Homo sapiens: one gene and its partners. The protein of the gene in region 1 purifies or fractionates together with the protein of each later gene. This does not show direct contact. Each region holds a gene or a part of one and is shown in the gene's direction. Other genes may lie near its edges.

Region 1 (3,500 bases):
AAACTCCTGGCCTCAAGTGATCCTCCTGCCTTGGCCTCCCGAAGTGCTGGGATTATAGGCATGAGCTACCATGCCCAGCCCCATTTTTCAAATGAGAAAACAAAAGTCAGGCAAGGTTAAGCAATTTCTCCCAGGCCTTACAAACATTTCATAGTATCAGAGGTGGCATCTGAACCGAGACAGCCTGGCTGCAGAGTCCAAGTTCTTTCCCATGGTGTGATCTGAGCTATGATCATGCTGCATATCTCAGGGATGCTTCTCTACTCAACAAACATCTACTGAGCATCTGCTGGGCCAGGCACTGTGCTGGGCTCTGGGGACATAGCAGTGAAAAGGACAGAGATGACATTCTGATGGCAGAGACAGACAAACACATTATAAAGTAAGGTCCTTTTGGGCTGGTCACGGTGGCTCAAGCCTGTAATCCCAGCACTTGGGGAGGCCGAGGCCGGTGGATCACCTGAGGTCGGGAGTTCGAGATCAGCCTGACCAACATGGAGAAACCCCGTCTCTACTAAAACTACAAAAAATTAGCCGGGTGTCGTGACGTGTGCCTGTAATCCCAGCTACTCAGGAGGCTGAGGTAGGAAAATCGCTTGAACCTGGGAGGCAGAGGTTGCAGTGAACCAACATTGCACCATTGCACTCCAGCCTGGGAAACAGAGGGACACTCCATCTCAAAAAAAAAGTGAGGTCTTGAGGTCTTTTTGGACTAAGTGTTAGGAGTTAATACAACCACAATAGAGAGTGATTTTAATGACGGTAACACAAGGGACTCACTGTGCCAAGCAGTATTTTTATTTTTTATTTTTATTTGTTTATTTTTTGAGACGGGGTTTTGCTCTTGTTGCCCAGGCTGGAGTGCAATGGTGTGATCTCGGCTCACTGCAACCTCTGCCTCCCGGGTTCAAGTGATTCTCCTGCCTCAGCCTCCGGAGTAGCTGGGATTACAGGCATGCACCACCACGCCTGGCTAATTTTTTGTATTTTTAGTAGAGTCGGGATTTCTCCATGTTGGTCAGGCTGGTCTTGAACTCCCAACCTCAGGTGATTTGCCGCCTCGGCCTCCCAAAGTGTTGGGATTACAGGTGTGAGCCACTGCGCCCGACATTCTTTATAATTTTTAACTCATTTCATCCTTATGTCCTCCCATCAGAGTGCATACTGTTATTTAGCCCATTTTATGACAAAGAAAGTGGCTGGCACACGCTTTCTTGAGTCTTCTGCTTTGGGGGTATCAAAACCTATAACTGGGCCAGAGGCAATGATCAGGCACAGAGAGGGTGAGTAACTTGCCCGCAGTCACACAGGTGGCGGAGTGTTGCTGGCAGAGGGAACAGCAAGTGCAAAGATAGGTGTAGTCACCAGAGACAGTGGGTATGAGGTTGTTTGAGGCTGAGTTATCCAGACATGAGTGGGTCCCCAGCAGGGGCAGCAGAGACAGCGGGGCAGGTGTGCTGGCTGGATAGACTGCTGCGTGTTTGTGTTCTAGGAGGCCAACGGTCCTGCTGATGGCTACGCAGCCATTGCCCAGGCTGACAGGCTGACCCAGGAGCCTGAGAGCATCCGCAAGTGGCGAGAGGAGCAGAGGAAACGGCTGCAAGAGCTGGGTGAGGGCGGGGCTGAGGCGGGGTTGGCTGGGTGGGCTGTGTGTGGGGTGGAGTGTGGGGAGTCCTCGGAGTGCATGGGATGCTGCATGCCTTAATGTGGGACTGGGCCGGTGCGGCCCTGTGGCTGCCTGGCAGGGGCCAGGGGAGGAGCGCGGCCGGGCCTGTGCATCCCAGCTGGAAAGCAGCCACTCATTCTCTTGTGGGGTCCTAGATGCTGCATCTAAGGTCACGGAACAGGAATGGCGGGAGAAGGCCAAGAAGGACCTGGAGGAGTGGAACCAGCGCCAGAGTGAACAAGTAGAGAAGAACAAGATCAACAACCGGTGAGAGGGCTGTAGGGACATGAGGGGGCCATGGGGACATGAGGGGGGCTGTGGGGACATGAGGGGGCCGTGGGGACATGAGGGGGCCATGGGGACATGAAGGGGTGGGGACATGAGGGAGCTGTGGGGACATGAGGGGGCCGTGGGGACATGAGACGGGCTGTGGGGACATGAGGGAGCTGTGGGGACATGAGAGGGGCTGTGGGGACATGAGAGGGAGCTGTGGGGACATGAGAGGGAGCTGTGGGGACATGAGAGGGGCTGTGGGGACATGAGAGGGGCTATGGGGACATGAGAGGGGCTGTGGGGACATGACTGAACACTGCCCAGTGCTCCCTGCCTTTGAGGCTCTGTCCTTCACGGTACAAGGTCTTCCAGGAAGGGAAAGGCCTGTTCTGGGAAGCTACCCTTCTGTCTAGGGAACTGCTGCATGCCAGGCTCTGGGGTAGGCACGGAGGAGATGGAGATAAGGAGGACCCAGCCTTATGTCCTCAAAGGGCGCAGAGGAGAAAAACACACATGTTCAACTAAGCTCAAATACAGTAGGGCCCTCTGCACGAAGGCCATGGAAGCAAGGAAACAGGTCAGGGAGAGACCTCTGTGTCTTGGGACTTGGGCTTTGGAAGATGACTAGGAGGAAAAAAGGGAAAAAAGGGCAGGAGGTAGGGGGGCATTCTAGACCTGGGTACGAAGAAAAAAATGTGATGTATTAGGCAACAGGGGGCCAGGGAGCGGTGGGAGAGAAGGCAGGAACCTGTGGACTCACACTGTAAGGGCCTTGGCTGATGAGTTGGGCAGTGACATGGGCAGTGGGGAGCCACTGAAGGTGTTTGAACAGGAGTAACATGATCAGGGATGAATTTTAGAGAAGGTGCTGGGGCCAGGGTGAAGGTCCCCATTCTCCTGTTTGGGGCTGTGGGTCGTTGCTGAGCCTTCCAGAACTATGCTTCCTAACATTTCTCCCACTGGAGGTACTAATGCTGTCTCTCTCTCTCTCTCTAACCTTCTGCCTGCCTGTCTGTCTTGCCATCTGCCTTCCCCCACCTAACCCCTTCCCTCAACCTTTCCCTCAAGGATCGCTGACAAAGCATTCTACCAGCAGCCAGATGCTGATATCATCGGCTACGTGTACGTGTCTGTTTTGCTTCTCTGTTGGGGGAGCTAGAGAGGGAATGGCCACCACAGTTTCTTGAGTTTCCTGCTTGTGGGATATAAATGAGTGTGGCTGGGCTCGGAGCAATGGTCAGAACAGGAGGCAAATGCCCTGGTGGGTGCAGGCAGCAACCACCTCCCTCCCTCCAGTGAAGTGGAGGCTGCTTGGCTAAATCAGAGCCTTGCAGGATAAAGGCAGAGAAAGGAATGTGCTTGCCACTTATTCCCATGTGGGAGGGGCAAATGGCAGAGCACCCCAACTCCCTCCCTCTGTGATGTCTCTTGGTGGGTGTGTGGGGTGAAGGGTTTTTTGTTTTTTGAGATGGAGTTTCGCTCTTGCTGCTCAGGATGGAGTGCAGTGCTGCGATCTCGGCTCACTGCGACCTCCACCTCCTGGGTTCAAGCGATTCTCCTG
Region 2 (3,500 bases), on another chromosome or scaffold:
TGGGACACAGCGCAGTGCTAAACAGGAGCCCTTTCAGGGTTTTGCCCAAACTGTCCACGTCGTAGGAGGCTTCTAACAATAACTTGTGTTTGCAACACTGAAGTTACTTGACCTTGACTACCCTAGGTCAACCCTAGCCGGACCCCAGCTGTGATTGGAGGGCTGCTTGATGTGGATTGTTCTGAGGAAGTGATTAAACACTTAATCATGGCAGTGAGAGGACAGTTCTCTACTGATGAGTTGGTGGCTGAAGTAGAAAAAAGAAATAGGTAAGGTGTCCTTACTTGGTGTTTTCTCTTACCCCTGGATTCTAGTGTCTGTTGTTGTTTCTGTCTAATTCTCCAGGACTGTCTCTATAGCTGGTCGTTCATGTACACATCTTAGATGTAGCAATGAGTTACTTGCTATTGGTACTGTGAAGACCTTGGGGGAAAACCTAACAGTAGAAATCAGTTTGGAAACCAGGTCCATCTTGGTCCCTAGAGCAACCTGAAGTCAATGGACTCTGAGATTTTTTGTTTCAGGAAACATCTGTCAGAGCCCTGGAGTTGCCCTCAAGACTTCCAGTGGTAGCCTTGAGACTTTACAGCACCTTCCTTCTTTCAAAGGCTCAAGCTGCTGCTTCCCTGGCTGGAGTCCCAGATTCAGGAAGGCTGTGAGGAGCCTGCCACTCACAATGCACTGGCTAAAATCTACATCGACAGCAACAACAGCCCCGAGTGCTTCCTGAGAGAGAATGCCTACTATGACAGCAGCGTGGTGGGCCGCTACTGTGAGAAGCGAGACCCCCATCTGGCCTGTGTTGCCTATGAGCGGGGGCAGTGTGACCTTGAGCTCATCAAGGTGGGTAGCAGATGTGCTGAGCTGCCCATGTAACCCTGGGCTCCCAGGGAAGCTTTCAAAGGTGTGCCTGTGGGGAGCTGATCAGGGCTTTCTGTGCACCTGGAGATGGCAGGTCATGAGATTATTTCCTTGTGATTCTCACAGCTTTTGGGAACTTGCTCATGCAATTTGTATGCATTGTACCTGTAGACCAGTTGGTCCTGAACCTGACTTATCATCCCTCTGCTTACAGTCCTTACTATTGCCTGGCAATTTGAGGGCAGAATTGAACTCCTTGGCCTGACTCGTGAGCTCCTCTGTGGACTGCCACCTTTCCCAACTCCCGAACTTGATCAGCCATCCATCTTGCCACCCCACCTGGAGAGGCCTGCAATTCCCTGGGTGCCTCATGTCCCGAGTACCCTTGTACTTCATGCCCCCTTTTTGGGGTAACCCTCTACACAAGCCCTTCCCCATCACCTGACCAATGAGCTCTTGCTGGCCTCTCCTTGAGACATCTGCCCAGGTCTTTTGCCTGCATCTGCCCAGGCTTGGATCCACATATAATTACATGTTTAGGTTGAATTGTATGAACTGTTCCTACCTAATCATTTGATCTAAAAATCCAGACATGAATAGGGCACCTGTGAGGTTGGTGCCACACCAGCCTGCTTGGGCTTTTCCTGTGATACACAGGCGGACTGCGCTGCATCCGCAAGCACGTGTGCACGCCGCTCAGCCTTGTGCCGGGCATCTGGCACTCAACAGATCTGATCCTCACCAGGATTTAGCAAGTGCTGCACACGCTAGAACATTCCAGTGGACTGTTGGTGTTTTGGAGATCTGTTATAACATTCAGAAAAAGGTCTCCAGATCTACCAGTGAAAGCACAGTTTACAGTTTTTAGATCTTGAAACATTGCAGTGTTTGTGCTGTTTTATACCAGTTCTAGGCTGTTCTGATAACATTTTACAGATGGTTTAAAGCTAGCTACATATGAGTACTTAAATTTAACTAAATTAAAAATTACCAGTTTAGTTCCTGTCACGCACCACATTTCAAGGGCTCAGTAGCCTCCCATGGCTAGTGGCTGTATCAGACAGAATGGGAGACAGAGCATGTCCCTGAATGCAGGAAGTCCTACTGGCCAGATATGTGGCACATCCCTGGGAGTTGTTGTAAACTTGGAAAGGGCATTTTGAGGTAGTTTGAGTCCATCGTTAACCCTGTAGGATGCTGCTCATCCCATGTCAAAGCATAGCGTCTTGCCTGGGCCCTGACTGTCCACCAAACCAGTATCAGGCACACAGGGAACGAATTGGGGTGTGTCCTCCCAAGCAGCTTCCGCTGGTTGGCTGCTGTGTCACACACATGAGTGTGCTCATTTCAGGTGTGCAATGAGAATTCTCTGTTCAAAAGCGAGGCCCGCTACCTGGTATGCAGAAAGGATCCGGAGCTCTGGGCTCACGTCCTTGAGGAGACCAACCCATCCAGGAGACAGCTAATTGACCAGGTGAGGCACAGAGATGGGTATGTCTGCACACCTGCATTTTGCCGTCCGATCATCATTGTGGCTCAAGTGACTGGTTTCATTTTTAATTTAAAACATCTTGGCTGAGGGCAGTGGCTCACGCCTGTAATGCCAGCAATTTGGGAGGCGGAGGTGGGTGGATCACTTGAGGTCTCAGGAATTCAAGACCAGCCTGGCCAACGTGGTGAAACCCCATCTCCACTAAAAATACAAAAATTAGCCGCACATGGTGGCACACGCCTGTAATCCCAGCTACTTGGGAGGCTGAGGCAGGAGAATTGCTTGAACCCAGGGGGTGGAGGTTGCAGTGAGCCGACATCGTGCCACTGCACTCCAGCCTGGGCGACAGACAGAGACTCCATCTCAAAAAAATAAATAAATAGGCCAGGCATGGTGGCTCACGCCTGTAATCCTAGCACTTTGGGAGGCCGAGGCGGGTGGATGACTTGAGGTCAGGAGTTCAAGTCCAGCCTGGCCAACATAGTGAAACCCCATCTCTACTAAAAATACGAAAACACACTGTGTGGCGCATGCTTGTAATCCCAGCTACTCAGGAGGCTGAAGCAGGAGAATCGCTTGAACCCAGGAGGTGGAGGTTGCAGAAAGCCGAGACTGCACGCCACTGCACTCCAGCCTGGGCAACTGGGTGAGACTCTGTCTCAAAAAAATTAAATAAATAAATAAATAAATAAATAAATAAATAAATAAAACATCTTAGTCCTTACGAACCTTCTCCCCTGCAGAAATAGCTTGCCTAAAAATAGCTTGATTCCCCAGGGTAAGCTGACTTGGAACTGTTAACTGGCCAAGGGCATAGAGTTGGCCCTTGGATCCAAAGCAGGGATATGCAGCCCAGGAAGAGAGTACCTGGTGTCATGCCTGCATGCTGGGCCCAGCTCAGCCCTCGTGGACAGAGGTGAAGTAGCTTTCAAGGTTGTCTCAGCTGACTTCCCTTTGTTGAGGTGCTCTTTATGCCCCTGTGACTATCCAGCACCTCCTTGGAGACTGGGCAGAGTGCTGGGGCCAGGGGTCATTATTGGGTATGGCCTGGCAGGTGGGAGTCTGCCTCGGCCTCTGGGAGGGCTTCCCACAGCCCTGTGGAAGAGCCTCCTCTCCAGTTATAGCCTCACAGACATTTGCAGATAGT
Region 3 (3,435 bases), on another chromosome or scaffold:
GTTTACTGTTTTCAAAATATTTGAGATTTCCTTTCTGAATTCAAGGGGTATACAGATGTTCACAAAGATTTTTTACTGTGATATAAATAAAAACAGCGACACATCCTAAATGTGCACCTGTGCCGTGGCTGAGCCGCTGCAGTGAGGGCTAGTGTGCAACACCGATGCTGTGCTGGACGCGTGCCCAGCCGGGTCCCCTGACAGGAGGCAGCCGGGGCCGGTGCGTGTGTTTGCATGTTGCAGTCATGGGGCGGGGCCGGCAGAGGCCTGTGTGATTGTGGCGTCCCTGGAAAAGATGCTTGGCAGGCCCCTCCAGCTGTAGCCCAGCCTGCAGACGGGGCGTTCTGTGGGTCCTTCCCCGTGCATATGCGTGTGATCTCACCCATCCCGTGTGGGTGCGCAGGAGGGGCCGAGGGAGGAGGGTGCTGGAGGGCGGAAGTTACCTCTGACTGGAGGAGATACCCGGCCCGTGTTACCAGCACTGGTGTGCTCGTTCTAAAACTGGAAAAAATTTGTTCTTAATTTTAACAACAGTCATACATCACAACAGTGAACTTAAATTCAGCTGAAGATTGTGGGGGGCTCTTGTTTTTCAGGGTAAATATTCAGGGTAAGTGTGAAATGGTGTGTGTGAAAAAATTGTTTTTGTTCCTTCTAGGTCGGATGTTTATCTTTTATGGTAATAAGACCTCCACGCAGTTCCTAAACTTTACCCCAACACTAATCTGTTCAGACGACCTTCAGCCTAATATCCTTGGCTTCATTGCCCCATGCCCGCAGACAGCATAATGTGGGGCTTAGAGGAGGCTTTTGAGGAAGTTTTTTGGTTTTCTTATTTTGTTAAAATAGCGAGATAATTCCAGATGCTATATGAAAATCAGGCAGTCGTAATCTGCCTATGGTGCTGGGCAGGAGAAGGAAAACAGGCAGTCTTCCATATTGGAGAGCCAGCTTTTGATCATGCACCTAAAAATACCGTGTACATGCCTCCTCCCCTTCCATCTGGCCAGTGTGAGTCCCTTTCCTTTTCACCTGCTCTTACTCTCCTGTGACGTGATCTTTAAACCCCTCCTCTCCGAAGCCTCACAGAGCTGCTGCTTGCAGAGTGTGGGAGGCGCCAGTGGGGACTGGAGCGCGGTGCGCACCCCAGCCGAGCTTGTGTGTGCTTCTGGCAGAGCTTTTAGACTGAAGATTTTCCCTTCGTAATGCCAGAAGCGTTCCTAGAACTTCCCCAGCTAAAACAGGGAGACGCTAACGTCTCTACCTCTAAGGATAGGCCCGCCAAATAGAGTTAGCGTGAAGACCCCAGCTTGACCAGAGATGGTGACACCTGGGGATTTATGGTCAGCGACCTGAGTGAAGCAACATCCTCCTTGCCACTGGCTGGTCTGTTCATTTTAACATGAACATGTTTTAATGCAGACTGTTCAAGCTGTTTCAAAACAGTCATTAAAAATACACATGCAGGAGCACCTGTATTAAAGACTTTGTTTGGAATCTGGAGTGGAAGCTCTGACTCCTACTGCGCCCTTCTTTAGGGGTCTCTCCCTCGGGGTCCACTTGGCTCGAGGCGGCAGCGAGCCCAGCAGCTGAGTGGCCGGCGGCACACGACCCAGAGGGAAGGAGAGGCCTGCACCCCGCTGCCTCCTGGACCCAGCTTTGCTGCTGTCACTGTTTCTTCAGGAGAGGCTGTAGGCAAACCCTTGTTTTCCAGCATGAAAACAACCCTGGTCCCAGCAGGGCAGGCTCTTTTCTGTGTCTCGCTGTTTCAGGAGCCTGCTATTCCTGGGATTCTTAAAGTTTTCCTGCCCTACTAAGCACCAGTTTCTGCTAACGGTGACAAAAATTGTGTGTGTAAGACCCAGAGCCGAGGCTCAGAGTGAAAACAGACAAGTAGTATATAATCTAAGTGACTTTTTAAAATGGAGGAGCCATTCTGGAAGCGTGAGAAGCAGACAGTGTTTTGAGGATTGTCTGGGTGGAAGGGCAGGGCCGGGTGGTGTGGCTGCCCTCGACCCGTAGCTGGTGGTCCTAGAGTGTGGTGAGTGTGCTCGCCTCCACGGGTCCTGCTGGGGCTCTAGCCCGGCCCGTTTCCGCTTCTGCCACTGGGACTTGCTCAGCTGGATTCCTTAACGCACGCACACCTGAACCTGCAGACCAAGCCCGTGGACCCGACCGTGGAGGGGGGCGCGCAGGTGCAGCAGGTGGTCAACATAGAGTGCGTGTCCGACTTCACGGAGGCGCCAGTCCTCAACATTCAGTTCAGGTAAGAGCCGCCTGTGCGCCCCGGGCCAAGGGGTGTGTGGGCGCCTGAGCTGTGTGCCTGGGCTCCATGACTGTGCCTCCGTGTCCTTCCTGAGGGGACCCGGGGCGTGCGGGTGCTCACGGTGCATGGATGCGGCCTGAGCTATTGCTGCCCCCGGCTCTGCAGAGCGCAGGAAACAAGGGGAGGCGGAGCCCTGGGCTCCGGGACGGCAGGTGGCAGCTCCCACATGGGGCCTTGCTAGGATCTTTCTGGGCACCATGGGGCCCACCTCATGGGGTGGCAGACAGCCAGGGCCCCCGCGCCACCTGCCCGGCTTGGTACCAGACGACAGCTGTGGGGTGCAGGCAGCTGGTTTCCTTCGGCCCCCTGGCCTGGGGGGCGCGTTTTTTGCTCAGTTGAGCTCAGATCGTACCACTTTGCTTATTTTTTAAAAGCATAGGATTTTCCTGTTGCGACTGTTCATTACTCTCACTTTTCAGTGACTACAAATAGCGTGGATACAGTCAGCCCGTCCCCTGCTGGGTGTCTGCAAGGTTAGGAATGTTGAGAAAAGCACACTTTCTAACATTAAAAAGACAGAGAACTTAAGATTGTATACTGTAGAATTCGGGGACATAGACATGCAAGTTTTTGTTTCATTCTTTGTGCAAATGCCTTTGCCTTTTTAAAGAAAAAACATCACACTATTTGCACAGACTTGGAGTTCTGGGAAACAGATGAATGGGGAGAAGTGAGGCACAGGGACGTCCTGCCTGAGTATGCGGCCCTGGCCTGTCCTCCTGTCTGTGGGTGACACTGGACACTGAGCCACACACGATCCGTGGGGACTGAAGGCTCGGCCCCCCGACCCGCTCTGGTGGGTGGCAGTAGATCGGGACGCTTCTCACTCCAGGCTCTTTCCCGGTCCCTGGGGCTCTCAGAGGAGTAGCTGACTGTCTCTTTCTGCTGCTGCTGCTGCTGGCAGGTATGGGGGCACCTTCCAGAACGTGTCTGTGCAGCTGCCCATCACTCTCAACAAATTCTTCCAGCCGACAGAAATGGCTTCTCAGGATTTCTTTCAACGTTGGAAGCAGTTGAGCAAGTGAGAAACCTGTTTCCTGTAGGGGTCAGGGGTGGGGACGGGGCTCATTTGAAAAGGTGGGTTTTGGTCTCTGGCCTGGCTGAGAACA
Region 4 (3,500 bases), on another chromosome or scaffold:
CCAAGTTAAAGAAATAGAAAATAAAAGGTGATTTAGGGGAAAACCAGTGATAGTGATTAGAAGGGAGAAGAAAATATGAAAGTAGGATAAACAAGGAAACAGACACTAGGTTATCATATAAAATGCATACCATCATGTTCTGCTAGAGGTGGACCCAGTTTTGGCTTTGAGCTTTCTGGTGACCAATACAAAGAGGGAAGTGGGACTAATTGCATAATTTATATTATTGATATGATTAAAAAATACACTGATTGCCATAATATTACAAACAAGCATTATTAGAAATAACAGTGTTCCTGTTCTGAGACTTAAGGAAAATGTATTTTAAATATACCTGGGAAAAGACACATAGTAACAATTTTATATAGCTGTTTTTTATCACTAAATGTTTTCGGAGGGCACAAAAGGATGACATGAGAATTAATTTGTACTTATAGAAAAAAATGTGCGGATTGCACATACTCAGGCAATGCTTCATAAACAGTATTTCTCAATGAAGCATTGGCTAAGTTTGAATGGTGGTGAGTTCAAGGTTGTACTTGCTGGATCAATAGCCTTCTATAAACACTCTGTATTGCTCTCTGTGTCAGGGTATACTTGGAACAGTGAAGAACTCCACCAAGTGGCTGAGAGGAGACCCAGCCTCCTCCATGTGAAGTTGAAACAAATCACTAGTGGTGAATTACTTGAAGCAGCATTTTCAGAGGTTCAGGATACTCATTTATAAGATCAAAACTAAGATAGATGGGGAGGCCGAGGTGGGCGGATCACCTGAGGTCAGGAGTTCGAGACCAGCCTCAACATGGAGAAACCCCGTCTCTACTAAAAATACAAAATTAGCCGGACGTGTTGGTGCATGCCTGTAATCCCAGCTACTCAGGAGGCTGAGGCAGAAGAATTGCTTGAACCTGCGAGGTGGAGGTTGCGGTGAGCCAAGATCATGCCATTGCACTCCAGCCTGGGCAACAAGAGCGAAACTCTGTCTCAAAAAAAAAAAAAAAAAAAACCTAAGATAGATGGTATATCTGATTTTAAAACAGTGGCAAAGTCTTGGCTTAGATGTGGCTTATAAATTATATTATGTATGCATTCATTTTAATTTCTCAGTAAGGACAGTTTATAATAGATGATCCATTAGCCAAGATAATTAGTGTTAACAGGCACTATCTTCCTTATCTCTGAAGCAGACCTTTACCCATATGTGAAGTCATGCAAGAGCCTGTGCAATACCATGCACTCCAGAAATGTAGATCAATTCTTTCCAGTTGAAATAAGCATAATACTTCGTTATATCATTCTTAATATTTTTTAAATAGACAACTAAAGACAATCTATCCCATTAAAAGTAGGTTCTGTTATCAGTGATAGTAATTATGGTTTTATACAAATAAAGGATGCATTTAACATTTTATTAAAAATATTTCCTACACTTACAAATATTACTTACTTTTTTTTCTCATTTTAGGTTCAAGTTCCTTTGAATCTCAGAAGATGGAAAGGCCTTCCATTTCTGTTATTTCTCCAACAAGTCCTGGAGCTCTAAAAGATGCCCCACAAGTCTTACCAGGGCAACTTTCTGTATGTATTTTTTGTACATGTTGGAGGCTGTTAGTATTTGCATACACTGTCTGAGTCTGTCTTTAAATATGTTCGCCTTTCCTTGAAGCCTGCAATAAATACATAGTCATTTAACACCATAATCTACTTCATTAGTTTTTCATGCATTTTTTATTATTCCTTTATTCACATATTTATTCAGAAATACTTACTGAGTGCTTGCAGTGTGCCAGATACTCTGAACATTAATTGATGAATGGTAACATAAGTAAATAAAGAGTTCATATTTTTTGTGTGCTATGTAAAAGTTTCTAAGGTAAATAATTGTTTACACATAATATTAGGAGTTCATACCCCATTTATGTAATAACCTTATGAGCCTAGAGCCTGAAGAGCCTAAATTTGGAATATTCTTTTTAACTTCCTAAGGCATTTGGCAAAACTCTTCGTTGCCACTGAAAGCTCTCTGAAAAAGCTACCATTTTCTCACTATTGCCTTATTATGTGATCTGGGGAAACCTGGAGTGAAGAAACTAGGGTTAAGGATAATGAAGAACCATATATTTGTAGATTATGATGGAAAATGTGATGTTGATATTATAATTTAAGGACTTCAAACTATTTGTTTCAAATTGTTACACAAATAATGACCTTTTGCTCCTCTGATAATGTGTGGATTTCTGTGGTTTGCCTTTGTGGTTTTCTCTTGATTTTAATGAGACAGAGAAGATATATGTAAGCTTATTGCTCAAGGGCTTTTATGGTTTTAACTTTTATTTTTAGTATATTGAATATCTTTGTAATACCCTTTGGGTTTATCTGCCGGCCATCTTTTTCTTCAGTGTATGTGTAAATCTCTCATATTCTCCACATATTTTGAAAGAGGATGGAAACCCATTCTGGTTCTGTGAAACCCCATCTTAGGTATCAATTGGGAATCAGAGAAATGGATTTACACAGATCCAGGTTTGAATTCTTAATCTGTTCCTTACCATGAAAAGCTAATCCTATGTTAAATTAGTTTATTTTGTTTTAATGACTCTCAAATATGTTCTAACATATACCTATTAACAGCATATGCTTACTTAAACATAAAATGAAAAGTAACTTCTAAATTAAAGGAAAAAAATTAAAGTTAACATTGTTAAAGTGTCATCACCACTGCCAGGGCAGATACTGTAATAATGACTGATAAAATTCCAATTCTTGTGAGTTTGACAATAGGATTTTAGTACGTTACTTCCCCATTATTCTTTGGTCTACTGTCATGAAATCTTGGTTAATAGAAATATCATTTGGCCTTCTTGTAGTTTGAAGATGTCATTTGTGTATTGTATCCTTAGTTTTTTCCTCCTTCTCTCATGAAAAATAACCTGTAATAGTTTAATTCTAAAAATTAAATGACGGCTTGGTGCAGTGGCTCACACCTTTAATCCCAGCACTTTGAGAGACTGAAGAGTTCAAGACTAGCCTGGCAACATAGCAAGACCCCCGATTCCACAAAAAATTTAAAAAACTGGCCAGACATGATGATGTACACCTGTGGTTCCATCTACCTGGGAGGCTGAACTGGGAGAATTGTTGGTTCCAGCAGTTTGAGGCTGCAGTGAGCTATGATCATGCCACTGCATTCCAGCCTGTGACAGAGTGAGACCATGTCTCTAAAAAATAAAAAAATAAGTGAGAAAAAATACCAGGAAATACTAAACGGTGCCTGTATAAAATAGGCCCACAGTAAATATGTTTTATGATCTCTTCTAATTCTTTGTATTTCTTATTCCTAATATCCAAACTCTTGTTTTTTTTAATTTTAACTACCTGTGACACCAGAGAAAGCATTTAGTCACGCTATAATAATTTAGACACATATAATCTTCAAACTCTTATTTTTAACATTTAAGAACAATAATAATGATTTTATGTCTCCCTCTTCCCTTAGTTTT
Region 5 (4,211 bases), on another chromosome or scaffold:
GAGTTGGAGAACAAATAACTCTGTTGAAGGGGTTGCAACCTTAAATGACTATAGGAACCAGGCAGGTAACATACATGAGCCCATCTGGTCAGGCAAATGACTGTGTCTTACCTCAAGGGACCACTCTAGGTAATTGGTAACACACATCATTTTGGGTCCAATATTGACAGGTTTGATTTTTCCACAGAAGCTGGAAAACTAGGTTTTTAACATTTAGGCCTTTCAATTATTATTATTATTATTATTTATTTTTTGAGGCGGAGTCTCAGGCTAGGGTACAGTGGCGCCCGCCTCCCGGGTTCAAGCGATTCTCCTGCCTCAGCCTCCCGAGTAGCTGGGATTACAGGCACCCGCCACCACGCTCGGCTAATTTTTGTATTTTTAGTAGAGACGGGGTTTCACCATGTTGACCAGGCTGGTCTGGAACTCCTGACCTCAGGTGATCCGCCTGCCTCGGCCTCCCAAAGCACTGGGATTACAGGTGTAAGCCACCGCGCCTGGCATCAGTCTTTAAATGATAGCAACTAATTCACCTCCTGCTACCCACTCCCAACCCCCAAATACTGTGTGGGCCAAAAACTAAAAATGCATTGTCTGTGAGCCATTTCCTTATTATCCTATAAGGAAAGTCACCATTTCATCTCCAAATAGTTGGGCATTACGAACCCTTCCAAGTGGTTCATGAGGATTTGCTTTTGCCTTGGAAAATGTCAGGGTGAGAACGAACCTTGAGGGTCACAGGGCAGTCTCTGCAGTGTTGTGGTTGCCCAGGACGAAGGTTTTTCTAGCCCACGGCTCCCACTACTGGTCACTGCCCCAGGCCAGACCCTGGCCCTCTCCTCGGAAGACAGAGCAATGCAGCAGCGTTTCCCCTGCAAACTGCCTGCCTGGCTGCTGGGAGGGGGCTGCCAACCTTACTCACTAAGCGTCACAGGAAACTCCGACCTCCATGAGACGAAAACCAAGTATTTACTGAAAGCTTAACGCACGCTAACTCCTTGCTCCTTAGCCAACTGAGAGAAAAATTCGCGAACCCATTCGCAAACGCGGCGCTAACAGCAAACGGGAGGCTGACTCCACCCAGAGGATGGCGAAGCGCTTAAACCGGAGACACCTGAGAAGGAGCCTCCCACAAAACAGACCATGTGGGGAACGGTACCGGGAGCTGGACTGGGGCGCTGAACTACCTGGGCGGGAATCGCCTCGGCGACTGTTCCGCGCGCCTCCGCTTGAGTCAGCCCGGCCGGGAGCTTGACAGCCGGAAGTTCATCGCAAGCCCGGCGACGCCGCGCACGCGCTGTCTCCGTCAGACCTCCGCGCCTGCGCGCGCAGCCAGGAAGTGAGGCCGCGGCGGAGGGGACGGGGCTAGGCCGGGTCGCCGCCTGACGCGACGCGTCCTCACGGGCGCCTACGTCACGGCGTCGAGGCGGAAGATGGTGCACCTCCGGGCCGGCGGTTGCTGAGCTGACCCGGACGGCGAGGGAGCGGGAGCCCGAGCCCGACCACTCCGGCTGCCGCGGGGTGCGGCGCAGCCACCGCCATGTCGCTGCTGCAGTCGGCGCTCGACTTCTTGGCGGGTCCAGGCTCCCTGGGCGGTGCTTCCGGCCGCGACCAGAGTGACTTCGTGGGGCAGACGGTGGAACTGGGCGAGCTGCGGCTGCGGGTGCGGCGGGTCCTGGCCGAAGGTGAGGCCCCGGGTCGGCAGCGCGGGTGCGGCCGCGGAGTGTTGTCTCCGGGACGCTGGGGGCAGCGTCAGCCCGGAGTGGAAGGGCGTGGGTTAGGGCTGGGGAGGGTCCCAGCGGGATCGTGGGTCAGGGTCGGCCAGGGGAGGGTCTCTGCCGAGGGCGTGGGTCAGGGCCAGGCGAAGGTCATAGCGCGGGCGTAGGTGAGTGCCTGCTGGCGGTGATTGCGGAGGGCGAGGCTGGGACCGGGTCGGGGTACTTTCTTGTCATAAGAGTAGGGTCAAGTCGGAGCAAGGCCTGGGGCTTGGGGAACCCCCTCAGGGTGGGTGGGGGAAGATGTTACGGTGAGGTGGGGGATGGTGGCAGGCAGGGAGCTTGGGTGGGGACCCACAGCGGAGACTGAGGGACGGTGCCTAGAAGGCCGACAGCTGGAGTCAGGAGGTGAGCGGTGCAGGAGGTGGGTTTAAGCCTTGGCCTTTTGCCGGACATCTGGGGTTATTGAGCAGGCAGGGACAGGACTGGACTTTGGAGGTTAGGGCTGGTTCTTCTACAGTCCAGGGAACTTGAGAGTTGGTGGGTGCACACGTGTTGCAGGTAGTTGCGGTTGTAGCCTGGGGGGTGGGGGGGTTGGCCGAGGGTAGACTGGGCTGTGTCTCGTGATCCCCCTTCGTCTTTCAACACCTCAGTGTTTCTCTTCCCGGTGAACATCTACTCGTGTGATTCCGTGTGTAGTACAGGAAGCAGAGCCAGTGGTTGTGACCTATATAGAACTTGCAGAGTGGACAGGTCACTCGGCTTAAGTCCTCTTGAGTCAGTCTTGAGTCAGTTTTGTCTCTGCATGCTATTTCTAGCTCCCTGGATGTCCTCTCCGTTCACACGGAATCGATCACCAGTGCCAGTGGGTCCCATTCTCTCTTGTGGATTTTCCTTACATTTTTTGTCCAGTGGTGCCTGGAGGTGTGTCATATTTCACTGGCTGTGAAGTTTATGGGCTAAACACAGTTGACTTGGGTGCGGAAGCGTAACTCTATTCTGCTGTATTGGCACAGGGAGAGGGAGTGAAGCGACACAAAAGCCCTCACCCTCACCAGCTCCCTGGTACCTCTCAGGGCTGGAGGGTTAGCCTGTCCAGGTGCCTGCTCTGTGACCAGACAGGAGACTATCCCAGAATTCTGATTATCACAAAAGGCCTGCGGAGACATTTTGACTGTAGCATTATCACACACTTTGTCTCCATTGTGGTCAAAACCAAACAGATTTTGGGTATGATTTGGTCAGAAAGTCTAAGCTCTTCTTTCAGAAGTGGGGGCTGAAGTGTGATATTCTTTCACATCAGTTGGAAGATTTCTCTCAGATCAAATCATTTATTCTGAAAATACTAGGTGGTTATCTTCATTCTTTAAGAAGTTTATTGTGGACAGGACTTGCTTTCTGGAACTTCAGACTTGTGCTCAAGGGGTGGAGAGACAGAGGCAGCACAGGGACAGATCCTTAGGGGTGGTACAGACAGTGTGAGCTTTGGGAAGGGGCCAAGCAGAAGATGGCACGGATCTTGGTGGGAGGGATGGAGAATGCACCCTCACTGGGGCCCGGAGAGGAAGATTCGTATAAAGAAAGAAGCTTGTGGGTCACTTAGCACCCAGGAAGAAGAACAAGGAAATGTGGGCAGCTGCTGAGGTTGTGCAAAAGAACTTGTTTCCCTTTGCTATCTAGGCAAGTCAGGAGATAAAAATAACCAATGCAATTAGGAGCTGTAGATTTCCTCCTTGTAAACTTAATAGGTGGCCTGCAGCCTCCTAAGTACTTTGAAGCCTCTTTGAACTGAAACAGAGTGTGAAAGCTGAATTAAGTATTTTATATAAACATACTTAATTAAGTTTTGTCTGAACAGCAACCTTAGAACATAGGCTATGGGAGTTTAGGCTGTCTTGTGTAAACATGGTGATGGCTGGTAATCTGAACCCTTGAGTACAGATGTTTACACTTCCAGAATTTTTCAGGTTTCAGAATGGTCATTGCAGCATATAACCTGTATATCGTGGGATACTCCCAGAAGACTTGGGAAAGTATTCTGTAATTGAATACATTAATATTTCTGTAATTAAATGAATAAATATTCTCACTGTGGGATAATTAAAGTCTGTAATTAACCCCATATCAGTTCATGTCAGGTTTTATCCCAAATGAGGTTATTATGATAGACCAGGATTTGCTGTCAAGTGAGTTAGGAAAAAATGGTTTTCATAGCTTTTAGGAATTTGGACTTGTGGTGTGAATGGGTTTTTAGGTAGAACTGTGGAACCAGATAGCTTTCTAATTTCTTCAAATTTGTTCTGTCATCTTCCTTTTTTTTTTTTTAATTTAAGAGACGAGGTCTTGCTGTTACTCAGGATGGATTTGAACTGGGCTCTGGATCTTCCTGCCTCGGCCTCCCGAGTAGCTGGGCTTACAGGCATGTGCTGCTGCACCTAGCTAGTCTTCACTTTTTTAAAAGGCAGATTATCAGGAGCACCAACCATGTCAGAGATG
Region 6 (3,500 bases), on another chromosome or scaffold:
TACATCCAGCAACCCAGAAACCAGCAATTGCTCAGTTCCCTGTGGTGTCCCAAGGAGGCTCTCAACAGCAGCTAATGCAGAATTTCTACCAGCAGCAGCAGCAGCAGCAACAACAACAGCAACAGCAACAGCTGGCCACAGCCCTGCATCAACAACAGCTGATGACTCAGCAGGCTGCCTTGCAGCAAAAGCCCACTATGGCAGCAGGACAGCAGCCCCAGCCACAGCCAGCTGCAGCCCCACAGCCAGCCCCTGCCCAGGAGCCAGCGGTAAGAATCAACCAGAGCTCAGAGCACAAAAGCAGCAGAGGAATGTGCAGCGAGAGCTAGGGGAAGGGTGGGAAAGATGGCAGCAGCTGATGAGGGTCCAGGTTGCTTTCCCACCTGGGTGGTTCAATTATTTGATCTTTCCTTGATATATCCAAGAATAGTATGGATGTTCTATAGAAGATAGAGGTTTTTTTAAAAAAGGATTCTAGGCTACTGATGAAGAGCCTTCTTAATTTTTATCACTCTGAAACTAGGCTAGCAGGAAGATCTGTTCATCATCTCTGTCTGTGTCACTTTGAACAGTCAAGGACCTAGGCAGGATTAAAGCTAATCCCTTTCTCTTCTTCAAGGGGCAGTTTGATCCATTGTGCCCTTTCCAGGCCCTGGGTCCTCCATGTTGTGTTTATTCTTTGTCTTGGATGACATTACTAATCACATTATTTAAGTTTACCATGCAGCTCCCGTCAAGGGCCTGCTTACCTGAGACCATTCACCCTGGTGTAATCCCCCTGGGTACCAGAGCATCTGAGTATCCAGTCATTTGAGCCATCTTATCAATTTAGAAATTGGGCATGTCCACTTTTAGATATTGGCTGAGTATGGCATCAGAACCCCTCGTCTGATTGTCCTCTACAGTTTCAACACACACGGGCACATCATGCTTTGGCCTGTGATAAGTGGATTTTTTTCTGTACTCTTATTTTTCTGAGTGATAGTGATAGAAAATGTTATGGTGTTAGAAAAAGACATTTTGCATACCCAGCTGGTAGAGTGTCACAGCTACCCTGTTACTCCCAGGGAAGTCTAACTACTAGAGGAACAAAGGAAAAGTAAGAAGCCATCTTTCTGCTGGGCACAGTGGCCTCACGCCTGTAATCCCAGCACTTTGGGAGGCCGAGGCGGGCGGATCACAAGGTCAGGAGATCGAGACCATCCTGGCTAACGTGGTGAAACCACGTCTCTACTAAAAATACAAAAAAAAAATTAGCCGGGCGTGGTGGCAGGCACCTATAGTCCCAGCTACTCGGGAGGCTGAGGCAGGAGAATGGCGTGAACCCGGGAGGTGGAGCTTGCAGTGAGTGGAGATCATGCCACTGCACTCCAGCCTGGGCCACAGAGCAAGACTCCATCTCAAAAAAAAAAAAGAAACCATCTTTCTGAGGATTGATTTCTAATAGAGTTTTGTCTCCCATCTTAAACCAGAAAACCTACATCGCTTCGAAAGGAAGCAGTGCCGTAGATTGTCTTCTTTAAGTCTTAGCTAAGTGTGTGTTTAGTGTCTTTACACCTTCGTTTCTAAAACAACTCAGACTTCCTGCAGGCATGGAGTAGACAGTGAGTCTCTGTATTTTTAACAAGAGGTAAAGTTCCTCTTCTTCATGGAAAAAGAGTTTTTAAAAAAATTAGTACATGAGATAGCTAGAAGGGACCTTAATTATTCAGTTCAGCCTCCTCATTTTACAGAATTGGAAACTGAGGCATAGACTAGAAAGTGGTTGCCCAAGACATACGAACTGATGGTAGTGGAGCTGGGGCAAGAATCAAAGAATCCTGATCTGTGTTTAAGTTTAATTATAACAAATGCTCATCCAGGGTGATAAAATGATCAACTACTACTGACTACACTTCTTATGAGGTTCCCCTATGCTTCTCCTACACAAAAGTGTCTACTCCCTTGGGAATGAATTATGAACTTTCTCCGTGTTCTTTGGATGAAAAAACACTTTGAACACTTTGCTCTGGGATAGTTGGTTTTGGGGACAGAGAGGAAACAGAAATAGACCATGCTTTGGCCAGGAGCCATAGAGCTTCTCAGCTTTGACCCATCCTTGTCTCCGCTGACTCTTGGCAGGGCTAATCTAAAGAAGCAAGTGAATGAAGGTAAAGCGTACCCTGTAGCCATCTTAAAGCAATAATTAGCAAAGGGGAAATGGCCATTTGCCCTAGATGTTTATTGCAGTCTTATTAATAATAGCCCAGAGAATTTGGAAGCAACCTAAATTGCTGAGAAACCCAACTGTGCAGCCATTAAAAAGCACGGTTATAAAGTCTGTACAACAGTATGAAAAGAAATGCTCATGAGGTAATGTTAAAGGAATTGTGAAATTACGGAAAAACTATACACTTGAAAAGAGACTTAAAGTATAAGGTACCAAAAAGATAAGGATTGTATCTAGTTGTATTAGAGTGATGGAATAGAAGTCTGTTTTCTATATTCTTACATTTCTTGATGTGATTATACTCCTTTTATAATTACATTTTTAAAAAATCGTCAGCAAAATAGACATCTGAGTCTTTTTATTCCTTCTCCCGTGGTCTCTCTGTCCCTCCTCCCACTTTCCAATCCTGTTTGGATGGGATGGCATCATGGGGCAGAAAAGAGTCCTGAGCCACAGTCAGGAGACATGGGCTCTGCTTCCAGTTAACCCTGTGACCTTGAATGAGCATTTGGCCTCAGTGCAGGAGTTGAAATCTGCATTTTCTAAGGTCCCTTTAAACTCTCACATTCTTTGATTCTAAGTGGAAGTATAACTGTCTGCCAGGGTTGCTGGGAGGCGTAGCTGAACAGATACAAACCACTTAGTGTCTGTAGATTGCTGTTATAGGGCAAGGTGTCCTGAAGGAGGCATCTAATCTTCAGTGTGCTGCATCTGGAGAACAGAAGAGAAAAATGTTCTCCAAGTGGTAAGAAAACTATCCAACTCCTTTCCTTTATGCCATCAACCTCGAGACAAAACAACTTCGGATGTAAAATGCCCTGGAGATTTCACCATCCCTTCCCTCCAGTCCTTCATCTCAGAATAGAGTTGTCACTGGACTCTTCAAAATAAAGGGACCCAACAGTTTAGTATTCTTTTCAGATTAATGAATGTCTCATGAAATAAGCCCATTCAGTGTATCCTCAAAGCCCTCTGACCCCTATGTGTGGTAGTATTCAGCCAGCTGTTACAGGCACAACTCTGGACCCCCAGAGGAAGTTGTGGAGCTGGAGCTGTGGTTGTCTTCACAGAGCACTCTGCCTCTCCTTCAGCAGGGCAGCTTTGTTACCCTTCTAACCTCTGATTGATATTAGAACCTTATATTGTAACATTCAGCCTGTTGGTTAAGTGGATGGAATACTGACATGTGTACATAGTCTACCTTAATAAATTTTCCAAGTCCTGAGGACAAGATGAGGGCAGTCAATATCCCAAGCTAGAAGCATCCTGACCCAGGTAGCTGGATAGTCTA
Region 7 (3,500 bases), about 19 Mb from region 1:
ATAGAGATGATATTTTATAGGATTATGAGGATTAAATGTGAAACAGTATAGTACTTGACATACAGTAAACTCTTGAAACATCTATTACTGTTATTACTGTTACACACAAAACAGTATAACACTAGAAAAATCAAAGGAATACAGTGTTTGTGAAAATAGAGATATCATTGTCAGACTAGGTTATTTGTAAGTATGTAGGAACTATATCTTCATCCATGAAATCATTATTTTCAGTGAGTACTCTCTCTTAAGACTCAGTTTAGCCTACATATAGGACAGCTAATTTAAATACCTCTGTTGTTTATGCCTTGTATTATTTTTGCTAAATCATAAATGGCTTCTACTTTAATATTGCAAAGCATATTGCAGAAATACCCTTTCAAAAGACATGTTGAGGAATAAAGTCTTTGGAAAGACATATCGCGAATTCCATCTGCCAATTCTTAATATTTTGTTCAGCTTGTTTTGTGTATTCTCAAGATTTTAAAGTAACTGCTAATGTAAAACATTACTAAAACATAAAAAGATTTATTTCATAAATGCAAATTGAAGCAGACAATTTATTCTTAAGAGACTGAACAATATCAAGAAAAAGAATCCTCTAAAATATGTGATACCAAATTCATGGTGTTTGACAATGGACAAACAGTATATACAAGGAAAGCACATTGGAGAAAGGGCTTTCTGGTTATTCAACCCCTCAAATTGGCAAGAAATTATTTGGCTTACCAGGGCTCTTTTGCCTGAAAATTAAATACAGGTAAAGGAACGTAATATATTCCTATGTTTGAGCCAATTTATAGCTACTTATTACTTGTGGATAGATTTAGCTAACGAATTATTAAATGTGAGTGATTTTGTTAATGTGCAACAGTGCACATGAATGGTTTGTACTTCATTTAAGAAGAGTCTAGTTAGCCAATTTTAGAATATTTCATTTCTTTTTTTTTTTTTTTTTTGAGACGGGGTCTTGCTCTGTCACTCAGGCTGGAGTGTAATGGTGCCATCTCTGCTTCAGCCTCCTAGGTTTAAGCGATCCTCCCAAGTAGCTTAAGCGATCCTCCCAAGTAGCTGGGACGACAGACACATGTCACAACACCCAGCTAATTTTTGTATTTTGGTAGAAATGGAGTTTTGCCGCATTTCCCAGGCTGGTCTCGAACTCCTGAGCTCAAGCAATCTACCCACCGTGGCCTCCCAAAATGCTGGAATTGCAGGTGTGAGCCACTGTGCCTGGCCTAGAATATTTGTTTTGACATGAATTTTATTTAGCTTCTCAATTCTTAGGACAGTATTTAAGTTCTAGATAACTTTAATATAAATAATCTTTTATAATTTTGCACACACTCATCATTATGTGGTAAACGTACATGCGTGCTTTTTCAACAACTATTGAATGAAATGTTTCATTCAAGAATTCTCATTCAAATAGCTTATATTTTTATAGTAGAAAAAAGGCATGCATTGAAAATTCAATTTTCGGGTTTTTTGTTTGTTTGTTTGTTTGCCATTTGTTTTCATGCATTTTTAGTAAATCATTAAAGAACAGTGCAAGGCCAGGTGCCGTGGCTCACAACTGTAATCCCAACACTTTGGGAGGCCGAGAAGGGAAGATCTCTTGAGCCCAGTAGTCCAAGACTAGCCTGGGCAACACAGACCTTGTCTCTACAAAAAAATTAAAAAATTAGCCGGACATGGTGATGCATGCCTATAGTCCCAGCTACATGGGAGGCTGAAATGGGAGGATCACTTGAACCCAGGAGTTGAAAGCTGCAGTGAGCTGTGATTGTGCCACTGCACTCTAGCCTGGGCAACAGAGTGAAACTTTGTCTCTAAAAAAATTTTTTTTAATATTAAAAAAAAGAACAATGCTAATAGGCATACTGAGCCTTTTTCTATTAATTTTTCTCATACTAATTTTTCATTTATCACTTTTTAAAGTGACTTAGGTTATACGGTTGAAACTACATGTCTTAATTTGTAGTTAAACCCCCATGGTTAAATAATTTTTTTTTTTTTTTTTTTTTTTTTTTGAGACAGGGTCTCACTTGTACCCAGGCTGGAGCGCAGTGGCATGCACGATCTTGACTCACTGCAGCCTTGACCTCCTGGGCTCAATCCATCCTCCCACCTTAGTCCCCCAAGTAAGAGGGACTACAGGTGCTTACCACCATGCCCGGCTAATTTTTTGTAGAGATAGGGTTTCATCATGCTCCCCAGGCTGGGCTCAAACTCTTGAGCTCAGGCAATCCGCCCGCCTCAAGCCTCCCAAAGTGCTAGGATTATAGGCGTGAGCCACTGTGCCCAGCCAGTAATATCCTTAGTTTGATGTATTTGGCTTATAAGTTCGGTACTGAATGGGGCTTTGAAGGATGGCCTGTTTCTCACTAAGCATGTAAAATGTTTAGCCCTGTCATCTGCTGTCCACTCAGCAGCGAGAGGGATTCTTTAAAAATACTAAGTCAAATGGGTTCAGAATTCTCCAGTGGCTTCTCATCTCATTGCTTAATTGCCTGTACAGATCTGGCTCTTTGTTGCCCCGCCTGTGATCTCTTCTCCCACCACTGTCCCTCACTTTCTCTGTTCTGTTCAGTGGACCTCCTGTATTACATAGTATGCACTCACACTCGTCACTATTTTTTTCTGTGCTTGCCTTCCTCTGTTACATGTATTCATCTCCTGCCTCTGATATGCAAGTTCCTTGAGGGCAGGAACTTTGTTTTGTTTACTGCTGTATTACTAACTCTTAGAACAATTATGACACATAGTAGGCGCTCAAATATTTTTGAATGAATACATTAAATTTGGTAAGTTGATATTTATTACAGAGGATATCCTTTAAATCCAGATATTTCTAATAATAAAAGCTAATAGTTATTGAGCATTTGCCATGTGCCAAGAACAAAGGTGACAACATTGTTATGTTCAATTTTCTTATGAGGAAATTGGGCACAGAATGCCAAGAGTGTGCCACAGATAGCACATCTAGAAGATAGTCTAGATTTAAATCTAGATGATATACTTTCAGAATATGTATTTAGCAGTTTATGCTAATCTTTTACAAGACATCATGTAAACAAAAAAATTGTTATACAGGCATACCTCAGAGATATTACAGGTTTAGTTCCAAACCACTGCAATAAAGTGAATATTGGAATAAAGCAAGTCATACAAATTTTTAGTTTCCCAGTTCATATAAAAGTTATGTTTCCACTATGTGGTAGTCTATTAAATGCACAATGGTATTATGTTTAAAAAAGTACATACCTTAATTTAAAAATATCTTATTGCTAAAAAGTACAGCCATCTGAGCTTTCAGCAGGTATTTATCATTCTGCTGGTGGAAAATCTTGCCTCCATGTTGATGGCTGCTGACTTATCAGGGTTGTGGGATTGCTGAAGTTTGGGGTGGCTGTGGCAATTTCTTAAAATAACAATGAAGTTTTCTGCATCATAGATTCTTCCTTTCACAGATGATTTCTCTGTAGCATGCAATGCTG

What was found.
Region 2: the proteins of CLTB (region 1) and CLTCL1 purify together in Homo sapiens (affinity purification with mass spectrometry; 3 studies listed by BioGRID and IntAct, with this or other methods). This does not show direct contact.
Region 3: the proteins of CLTB (region 1) and AP2A2 purify together in Homo sapiens (affinity purification with mass spectrometry; 2 studies listed by BioGRID and IntAct, with this or other methods). This does not show direct contact.
Region 4: the proteins of CLTB (region 1) and RIMS1 purify together in Homo sapiens (co-immunoprecipitation; one large-scale study listed by IntAct). This does not show direct contact.
Region 5: the proteins of CLTB (region 1) and GAK purify together in Homo sapiens (affinity purification with mass spectrometry; 2 studies listed by BioGRID and IntAct, with this or other methods). This does not show direct contact.
Region 6: the proteins of CLTB (region 1) and AAK1 purify together in Homo sapiens (affinity purification with mass spectrometry; one large-scale study listed by BioGRID and IntAct). This does not show direct contact.
Region 7: the proteins of CLTB (region 1) and CLINT1 purify together in Homo sapiens (affinity purification with mass spectrometry; 2 studies listed by BioGRID and IntAct, with this or other methods). This does not show direct contact.

The regions. Positions count from the first base shown.
Region 1 is NC_000005.10:176,396,040-176,399,539, reverse strand, and holds part of CLTB (clathrin light chain B), read left to right. Parts: intron 1-1,492; coding exon 1,493-1,610; intron 1,611-1,821; coding exon 1,822-1,933; intron 1,934-3,007; coding exon 3,008-3,061; intron 3,062-3,500. UniProt on the Homo sapiens protein: Clathrin is the major protein of the polyhedral coat of coated pits and vesicles.
Region 2 is NC_000022.11:19,218,720-19,222,219, reverse strand, and holds part of CLTCL1 (clathrin heavy chain 2), read left to right. Parts: intron 1-126; coding exon 127-269; intron 270-608; coding exon 609-843; intron 844-2,212; coding exon 2,213-2,335; intron 2,336-3,500. UniProt on the Homo sapiens protein: Clathrin is the major protein of the polyhedral coat of coated pits and vesicles. Two different adapter protein complexes link the clathrin lattice either to the plasma membrane or to the trans-Golgi network.
Region 3 is NC_000011.10:1,005,870-1,009,304, forward strand, and holds part of AP2A2 (AP-2 complex subunit alpha-2), read left to right. Parts: intron 1-658; coding exon 659-748; intron 749-2,142; coding exon 2,143-2,266; intron 2,267-3,230; coding exon 3,231-3,347; intron 3,348-3,435. UniProt on the Homo sapiens protein: Component of the adaptor protein complex 2 (AP-2). Adaptor protein complexes function in protein transport via transport vesicles in different membrane traffic pathways.
Region 4 is NC_000006.12:72,246,550-72,250,049, forward strand, and holds part of RIMS1 (regulating synaptic membrane exocytosis protein 1), read left to right. Parts: intron 1-1,465; coding exon 1,466-1,578; intron 1,579-3,500. UniProt on the Homo sapiens protein: Rab effector involved in exocytosis. May act as scaffold protein that regulates neurotransmitter release at the active zone.
Region 5 is NC_000004.12:929,517-933,727, reverse strand, and holds the start of GAK (cyclin-G-associated kinase), read left to right. Parts: upstream 1-1,411; 5' UTR 1,412-1,540; coding exon 1,541-1,685; intron 1,686-4,211. UniProt on the Homo sapiens protein: Associates with cyclin G and CDK5. Seems to act as an auxilin homolog that is involved in the uncoating of clathrin-coated vesicles by Hsc70 in non-neuronal cells. Expression oscillates slightly during the cell cycle, peaking at G1.
Region 6 is NC_000002.12:69,511,240-69,514,739, reverse strand, and holds part of AAK1 (AP2-associated protein kinase 1), read left to right. Parts: coding exon 1-269; intron 270-3,500.
Region 7 is NC_000005.10:157,849,146-157,852,645, reverse strand, and holds part of CLINT1 (clathrin interactor 1), read left to right. Parts: intron 1-3,500. UniProt on the Homo sapiens protein: Binds to membranes enriched in phosphatidylinositol 4,5-bisphosphate (PtdIns(4,5)P2). May have a role in transport via clathrin-coated vesicles from the trans-Golgi network to endosomes. Stimulates clathrin assembly.